2 linked regions of the Homo sapiens genome follow. The protein of the gene in region 1 interacts with the protein of each later gene in a pairwise test. Each region holds a gene or a part of one and is shown on either strand. Other genes may lie near its edges.

Evidence for each region. The genes of interacting proteins can lie anywhere in the genome.
Region 2: the proteins of TBL1X (region 1) and DLX3 interact in a two-hybrid assay, tested with the Homo sapiens proteins (one large-scale study listed by BioGRID and IntAct).

The regions. Positions count from the first base shown.
Region 1 is NC_000023.11:9,470,638-9,476,505, forward strand, and holds part of TBL1X (F-box-like/WD repeat-containing protein TBL1X), read left to right. Parts: intron 1-5,868. UniProt on the Homo sapiens protein: F-box-like protein involved in the recruitment of the ubiquitin/19S proteasome complex to nuclear receptor-regulated transcription units. Plays an essential role in transcription activation mediated by nuclear receptors.
Region 2 is NC_000017.11:49,989,505-49,992,224, reverse strand, and holds the end of DLX3 (homeobox protein DLX-3), read left to right. Parts: intron 1-360; coding exon 361-708; 3' UTR 709-2,220; downstream 2,221-2,720. UniProt on the Homo sapiens protein: Transcriptional activator. Activates transcription of GNRHR, via binding to the downstream activin regulatory element (DARE) in the gene promoter.

The DNA of each region.
Region 1 (5,868 bases):
GTTTTTGTTTTTTTGAGACAGAATTTCATTGGTGTTTCCCAGGTTGGAGTGCAGTGGCATGATCTCTCCTCACTGCAACCTCCGCTTCCCGGGATCAAGCAATTCTCCTGCCTCAGCCTCCCGAGTAGCTGGGATTACAGGCATGCACCACCATGCCCGGCTAATTTTGTATTTTTAGTAGAGATGGCATTTCACCATGTTGGTCAGGCTGGTCTCGAACTCCTGACTTCAGATGATCCACTCGCCTCGGCCTCCCAAACTACTGGAATTACAGGTGTGAGCAACCATGCCCGACCTCTGATGTCCTTTTAGAGGATGTTACCCTCACCTTTATTGCACAGTCCTACCAAAAGGTACTTCATATGTGAAATGTATCAGAAGGTTATAGTCATGGCTTTAGTTTAAAAACAGGATACATGTTCATTAAGGACCTTTGCCGTTTTCCCAATGGGTTAATCACGTAAATATAAAATAGGCTAAAAATATCAAGTTGTTTTTGCCTTTGTTGTAGAAATAAAAAAATGAATTCCTACATCTGTGTTTCTATGGAGCTGCTAACCTGTGTTTTACTCTGGGCCATATGTCGCTTTCTGTGATCTCATGACGTGGCATGTTTTCTAATATAATCCTTGTCCTGGCATTTTGGTGACTTTTGTCCTGCCTGAGGTGGTCTACCTGGTTGTGTGAAGTCACAGAACCTGTGCATGTCCTACCGTGTAGAGTTAAAGGGCTGGATGAGTGGCCTCAAGCCTTTTCCTCCCTCCCAGGTGTGAAGATTTGGTTTGGAAGATGGACCCTGCTTCAAGGTCTGGGAGGCCATGTTTTTTTCAGACTGGTTAAGGATGACGGTTTTATGTTAACTAAACATTGGGATCAAGTGACAGTTGTTTATGTCCGGTGCCTAGAGTATCAGTTTTCCCATGATTAAAATAAGCGATATTTTGGTAAACATTGATAAGTTAGTTGCGCATTTTAGTTCAGAAACCCACAGCGAGTCAGAAGGCGCTTTGTGCTGCTGGGCGCCTCTGAGTGATTCCGGGGAGTGCGGCAGTTCTCCAGCCCCAGGAGACCCTGTGAAAGAAGCACAAACAATGCTCACGGCAAAACTCACAGTGTTTATTCTTGACCTGGGTGTCTGCCTTGAATTCTTGTCATTTTTCCTATCGTGGTGGATGTAGCCGGAATGCTTTAAAGAAAACATGAGAGTTTTTTCTGCCTGTTTCCCTTGAGCCTGGAACCGATTATGACCCCAGATAGCCTGCACAGGGCTCTTTCCTTTCTGGAACACCTGCCCAGGCTAGAATATGGGAGTAGGGAGGAGGTGAGGCTCTCTCCTGCCCGGTAACCTTCCCGGCCAGCTCTCCAAGACGCTGAAACCTTCCTTCGGGTCTGTTGAAACTGCATCCCCAGCACCATCATGTCGGAGCAAGAAGAGAAGGGCATGTGTCCCCTTTAGGCTTGACTCTTTCCAATTAGGGACCTGCCTGTTGTTAGGATTTAGAGTCCATGTGAATGTGCAGTATTGTTCAGTGCTGCGAGCATTTTTGCTTGTCTGAATTTCCTGATAGAAGGGAATTTGGACAAAAAGAAGCTTATTGTACATGGTGCCATTTTATTCCTTAAATCAATAATAACAAATACTTTATTTATGTATTTTTAGAGATGGGGTCTTGCTCTGTTGCCCTGATCATAGCTCACTGCAGCCTTGGCTTTCTGGGCTCAAGTGATCCTTCTGCCTCAGCCTCCCAAGTAGCTGGGCCGACAGGCACAAGTCAGCATGTCCAGCTTTTTTTTTTTCTTTCTTTTTTTTTTTTTTTTTAATTTTCAATTTTTTTCTAGAGATTGGGTCTTGCTGTGTTGCCTAGGCTGGTCTTGAGCACCTGGACTCAAGCAATCTTCCTGCATCGGCCTCCCAAAGTGCTGCGATTACAGTTGTGAGCTACTGTTCCTGGCCAACATATACTTTAATATGGCAAGACCATATAAAATAATTTTAAGAGGCCAGGTGTGGTGGCTCATGCCCCCCAGCACTTTGGGAGGCTGAGGGGGGCAGATCACGAGGTCAGGAGATCGAGACCATTCTAGCTAACACGGTGAAACCCCGTCTCTACTAAAAATACAAAAAATTAGCCAGGCATGGTGGTGGGCGCCTATAGTCCCAGCTCCTTGGGAGGCTGAGACAGGAGAATGGCGTGAACCATGGAGGTGGAGCTTGCAGTGAGCCAAGATTGCGCCACTGCACTCCAGCCTGGGTGACAGAGCAAGACTCCGTCTCAAAAAAAAAAACAATAATTTTAAGAACTGGAGGAAAATTCAGCAGGACTGAGTCGTGATTTCAGTTTCTGGTGCACTGTGGGTAATTGGGTAATTGTCAGCCTGGATGCTTGTGCTCCTTTAGTTGTCACTGTTACCTTGTCATCTATGTGAAGATGAGAAATGAAGTTGAGTGGAGAACTGTCGCCAAAGTCTGCCATGTAAAAATCGGTAGTGCCAATGTGCAAAGGTAATTCCCAGGTGCTATAAAAGTCCAGGTGGCTTCACAGTTTCAGATTGTATTTCCCGAAAGCGTAGAGAATTGATATCCCTGAATAGGAAATTGACGTCCCTGCCATTTGGTTCATTTGGGGAACAGAATAAACTTGTGTCCTTGCCTTCAGTTCTTTTTTCAACAGAATCTTATCAAGCATTTGAATCGTACACAACTGTAATGCCAGCTCCATGTTGATAAAAACTCAAGAATTCAAAATTATAAACTTGAAAACAGCAATTGCCAACTTCTGACAGTAGCAGGAGAGTCTGGAGGACCTGTTCAGAGGAAGTCGGGTACTGTTTCCTTTTCTTGTCTAGGTTTGTTCTTGTCCGATGGGATCAGAGAGATTGAGATGGGGCATGATAGGCGGTGGGTTCAGGAGAAAGGGAAGCTTTAGAAATGAAGGTAGAAAAGATGCTTTCTTATTGGAACAGTGTTTTCAACGTTGAGCTCTGGAATGTTGCAGCCAACTAATGGTTCTCATTTGGGACAGTTCTGTCCCCCACCTTTGAAGGGGGTTTGGTTTAATTCCCAATTTGATTATGAAGAAAATACCAGATTCAGCTTGCATTTTCAAGACACAGTGGTTCTATGTCAACTTCAGCCATTTCCAGGGATCTGTCTTAGGATACTTCAAAAAGCCTAACCTTTGAGATGCACTCAGCTCATAAGTTCGTGAAAATAAGAATGAATAATCTTCCCTGTCCAGTACATGACAGAAATTATTGTAGACCAGATGAGAGCAAGGAGAGATACTTGTTGATATTACATGTCACGGGATGCTCTGTTAAATTTTATGGGACTCTGAGTGTAATTCCTTTAAGCCAGTAGTCTCTAAATTTGGGGGAAGGACAGGGGACAGAAATGACTTGTTTCAGATTTTAATTCCCAAAAGGGTCTTAGTGAGTTTCATGCCCTCTGGCAGGTGCACAGCAAGATTTATTGGGATGCAGGAAGAAATTATGAAAATGTCCATTAAGAAAATCTCTAATACTTGTAAAAAATATATTTCTTGTCCATGAAATGCATGTTACTTGAGTATTTTATATATTTAATAAATTACATGAGTTAGGAGCACCTTCTGAAAACTTTTTTGCTGAAAAGGATATATGATGAAAGAAACATTTATGATGTAGGTCCCCAAAGGCTGGAAGAGGGGGTGATACCAACGTCCCTGCCTGCAGGTAGGACACAGTTGTACTCCCCTTTCCTCTGACTTCAGCTACTAAGGTATGTGTGCGTTTGCACGCACATGTATGTGCGTTAAGTAACTTTGAGATCCACCAGCTTAAGGACTGGACATCGTTCCAGAGGTACAGGTATTAGTGATTTGACTTAGGGAAGAAAGAATATGCAATAACAGGGAACCATGCACATACTGGATCTATTGTATTTTGCGTGTTGTTTTTAAAGCTGAAAAAATGCGCTTGTTTCGGAACTAGATGACAGTACCTGTTTGCAGGTCCACAAGGAAACCTTGGAACAATGCTATGCTTTTTAAGCGTTTTATGACTGCATTGTTTTCATAATCACTGAATTCTGTTTATAAATCAGCTGATTTCATTGACGGATGCCCTCAGGGCTCTGGAGAATTAGGCGTTTTGCTGCAGAAATGGTTCAGAATTTCAAAGACATCAACGTGAGATTGTACTGGAATTGAGTTGTGATAAAAGTCCTAGGGTGCTTTAAATCTTTAAATCTGGTTATTTGTTTGTTTGTTTTTTGAGGCAGAGTCTCACTCTGTCGCCTAGGCTAGAGTGTAGTGGCGTGATCTCAGCTCACTGCAACCTCCGCCTCCTGGGTTCAAGCAATTCTCCTGCCTCAGCCTCCCGAGTTGCTGGGATTACAGGCGCCTGCCACTGCACCCGGCTAATTTTTGTATTTTTAGTAGAGACGGGGTTTTGCCATGTTGGCCAGGCTGGTCTCGAACTCCTGACCTCAGGTGATCCGCCCACCTTGGTCTCCCAAAGTGGTGGGATTACCGGCGTGAGCCACTGTGACCTGCTGTTTTTGTTTTTGAGACATATTTCATCTATCATGGTTATTAAGTGTTTTGTTTTTTTGCATTTCTCATTGGTGTTTTTTGTTTGTTTGTTTGTTTTTTTGAGATGGAGTCTGGCTCTGTCGCCCAGGCTGGAGTGCTCAGCTCACTGCAACGTCTGCCTCCCAAGTTTAAGCAATTCTCCTGCCTCAGCATCCCGAGTAGCTGGGATTACAGGTGCCCACCACCACCACGCCTGGCTAATTGTTTTATTTTTAGTAGAGATGTGGTTTCACCATGTTGGCCAGGCTGGTTTCGAACTCCTGACCTCAAGTGATCTGCCTGCCTCGGCCTCCCAAAGTGCTGGAATTACAGGCGTGAACCACCACGCCTGGCCTCATTAGGTTTTTTTTTTTTTTCTGAGTTGCTGCTACACTACTGGTGTTACAGAGTGAATAAACATAAAAATTATATTCACAACTCAGACCACATTGTGGGCTGTGGAGGTGAGAAATAGGAATCATCTCTAAATTTAAGGTCTTCTGGCTGAGCTCATTTGCTTAGAATGGCTGAAGGTTTGGTTTTCATGAGATGAAATGCCAACCTCAAGTGGTTCTGGGTTTCCAGACCAGTTTTTAGTTTGTTTAACTTGAGAGAATTGATATGTCAGCTTTAGTTTTTGTGTGTAATTTTTGGTGTTTGCATCTGTTTTCTTCTTTGTGAATATTGAATTCGCAACATAACTTTGTTATATGAAATGATGCTCATACACTTGCGCAGTGCATTAGAAAGCCTGCCAGGAGCAGTACTTGTAGATTTCCGTGTACCAGCAGGATGCCTAATGCCGACCATGATTAATGCTCATCAGAATCTATGTAGACCTCCATTTGTCCTTTGATAAGCTGAAATATTTGTGTCTACTTTTTAAAAAACCTGTTGCTTCTCTTTATGGTAATACTCAGAAGGCACTCACTGTGAAGAGAGGAGAAACAGGAAGTAGAATTTTTTACTATCTAGATTGATGCACCTATCTCCCCTCTCCAGAGACCAATGCATTTAGGCCCCAGTAAGAAATTTAGTTGTAATGAACCATAAAGCAGATGCAGAGTATATTTGGGAATATACCTTATCTGACTCCACAGCCCAACCCCTTTAAGAGGAAAGAGATGGCACAATATATTTTGCTTTAAGCCTTAGACTGGTCTTGACTTCATATTGGAACCACTGAATTGCTTCAGCTGTGAACTGGAATCCTCTCCTGTCTTTGTTGTTGAGTGATGACACTCTTAATTAATCATTTGCTTATTTGCCATCCAAATCACCCTATATAATCTTTCAGAAGTGTATCTCAGAGAAT
Region 2 (2,720 bases), on another chromosome or scaffold:
CTTTAAGTTTTTTATATGTCGTACCTTATTTGAGCCTCAGAATGACCCTATGAGGCAGGTAATAGTGCTGTTCTCATCCCCATTTTGCAGACAAGAGGAAGTCAAGAACAAGAGAGGTTAAACAACTTGCCCAAGGTCACGCTTAGTAAGTGACAGAGCAGAATTTGGACCCAGGCAGCTGAACGTTCCTAGCCACAATTCTATCCCAGATCCAAGAAACTGGGAGTCAGGAGGCCTGTTTTTTGCCTGATTCTTATGTGAAATTGGGTTCTGGCCTTTCTTTTTCTTGGCTAGGTTCTTCCCAGGGTTGTTTTAGCATTCTGAGAGGCTAACTAGCTACCCCTTTCTTCTCTGGCCCAGGTGAAAATCTGGTTCCAGAACCGCCGTTCCAAGTTCAAGAAACTCTACAAGAACGGGGAGGTGCCGCTGGAGCACAGTCCCAATAACAGTGATTCCATGGCCTGCAACTCACCACCATCACCCGCCCTCTGGGACACCTCTTCCCACTCCACTCCGGCCCCTGCCCGCAGTCAGCTGCCCCCGCCGCTCCCATACAGTGCCTCCCCCAGCTACCTGGACGACCCCACCAACTCCTGGTATCACGCACAGAACCTGAGTGGACCCCACTTACAGCAGCAGCCGCCTCAGCCAGCCACCCTGCACCATGCCTCTCCCGGGCCCCCGCCCAACCCTGGGGCTGTGTACTGAGCACCCATCTGGCCTGCACCCTTGACAAAGGACCCCAGGACCAGGCAGAAGGCGCCTCCGTCCTAGCCACTCAGGAATCATCGAGGAGCACAGGGAAAAGGAACTCCCTTTCCCCCTCCCTTGCCCCTTCCTCCAGGGACCCAAGCGCTTCCAGATGACAATTGCATGGACCAAGGATGCCCCCTGAACCTCCCTCCCTCTGCCTAGACACTGGGGTACCCCTCCAGATGTGGGGACATTCCACCCCAGTGGGGACAGCCATTCCCCTACCTGCTCCAGGAGCCTGGATTGGCTTTAAATGGCTCATCATCTTCCAGCTTCTTAAACTTAGTGCCTGTTCCCAGACTGGAGACCTTGGGATGGGGGAGAGTGTGGAGGGTTTGCGGGTCCTGCCTGTGCTGGGGCACCTGGCACCGTGGATCTTAAAACTTGCCAGGCCTAGTTCCTCCTGAGCCTCTGGTGGTCTCCCCCTGCTCGAGCGGCCCCTCGGCCAATAAGACAGTGGACATCATGACGAGGACTCCGGGTGGGGACCTGAACTGGTCACCGCCCTGCACTTCTAGCCCTCATTTAAGATTTGAGGGTGAAACCAAAGAAAACCCCCTAAGTGAGGGAATCTTTTAATATTTGTGGCTTTAGAGGAAAGAACTAAAGGAGCCATCTCTCTCCCCTCTCCTCCGTTCCGAGAGGAGGGGTGGGTCTCAGACGTTTTTCCTATGGACTTATTTCTTCCATGTCCAGGACTTTGCACAACTTTGGTTTTAAAAGCTGTTGAAAAATAGGAAAACAAAGGGCATTGTTCACAGATAGGGCCAAGTCTCCCCTTGCAAGGGTGCCTCTGTTCTGTCCCTGCCCCCACCTCACCTTCTCTACTCCTCCAGTAAGTTGGCAGTTTTGGTGCCAAACCCCAAATCTCCAAAGAGACATACCAGGCAAGACAAACCCCCAAACACCTCCTTTCCGGTGGCCTTGGAAACAGATTGCTCCGAGCTGGAGAATGTCGGGTGAGGTGTATGGGAGAGGAGGGGAGAGTTAGAACTTGTGCCTTTGGGAGTAAGGGGTAACTGCCTGGAGGGCTGGTGGCACTGCCCCTCCCTGACCCAGACATCCCACCAAAGCTAACTTTCCCCCACCCCTGATGCAGTAAAACATTGAAAAAAAAAAAAAAGGAGAGGTAGAAGACTGTAGCTATATATATAAATATATAGTAAGTTTTTTTTTTTTAAGAGCAACAGAGAGAAGCAGCCTCCTCCCTGCTGCGGTTTCCTATTTATGTGGCCATGTTCCTCCTGGACGGATCTCCCTGTGTGTTTCAAGCTGAGAGATGTGGGCTCCGGCTGGATTTGGGTTTTGTGGGAGGTGCAGGGGCCAAGAGAGACGTGGTAGGTCTCCAAGAGTCCCACCCGGGGGGGAAGAAGCAAAGCCATCTCCCACCCCCTCCCAGCCTTCTCATTTCTGCTTTCTTACTGGACTCATCTTTATATATAATGTTAATAAAAAAGACGAAAATAACCACTGAGCTCTTTGAACTGGAGGCTGGTGGCAGCTCTTGTGGGGAGGGTCTGAGAGTTGGGGAAGGTGTCCAGTGAGGAGGCACTTCTGCGCTCTGAGGGAGACGGGGCCCCTAGGAAACCACTACTAAGGTGCTGGGCTGGGCCTGGCCCCTGGTGGCAGGTGCTCCTGAAACCATGGCTGTCCCCAATCTGGGCAGGTCTTTGGGGGAGGCTCCCAGCAGCAGCTTCCCTGACTCCACTGCTTGGCAGCTTGGTGCTCAGAATCAGACAGCTCCCTCTGCACCGCCGCCGGGTCACCTCAGGGCTGGTCTTTGATCTGGAGCTCACATGCAGACATGCTTGCACATGTGTGTAACCCCCTGCCTCCATGCCCAGGCACTCCTGGCCCCTCACCCTCCTGTCTGTCCCTTTCAGCTTGGGGTGAGGGTGGGGCCTCAGTCAGGGGGACACGACTGCTCCCTCAGTGGGGAGGGACCTAGCACTGTGATCCAGGCCTGG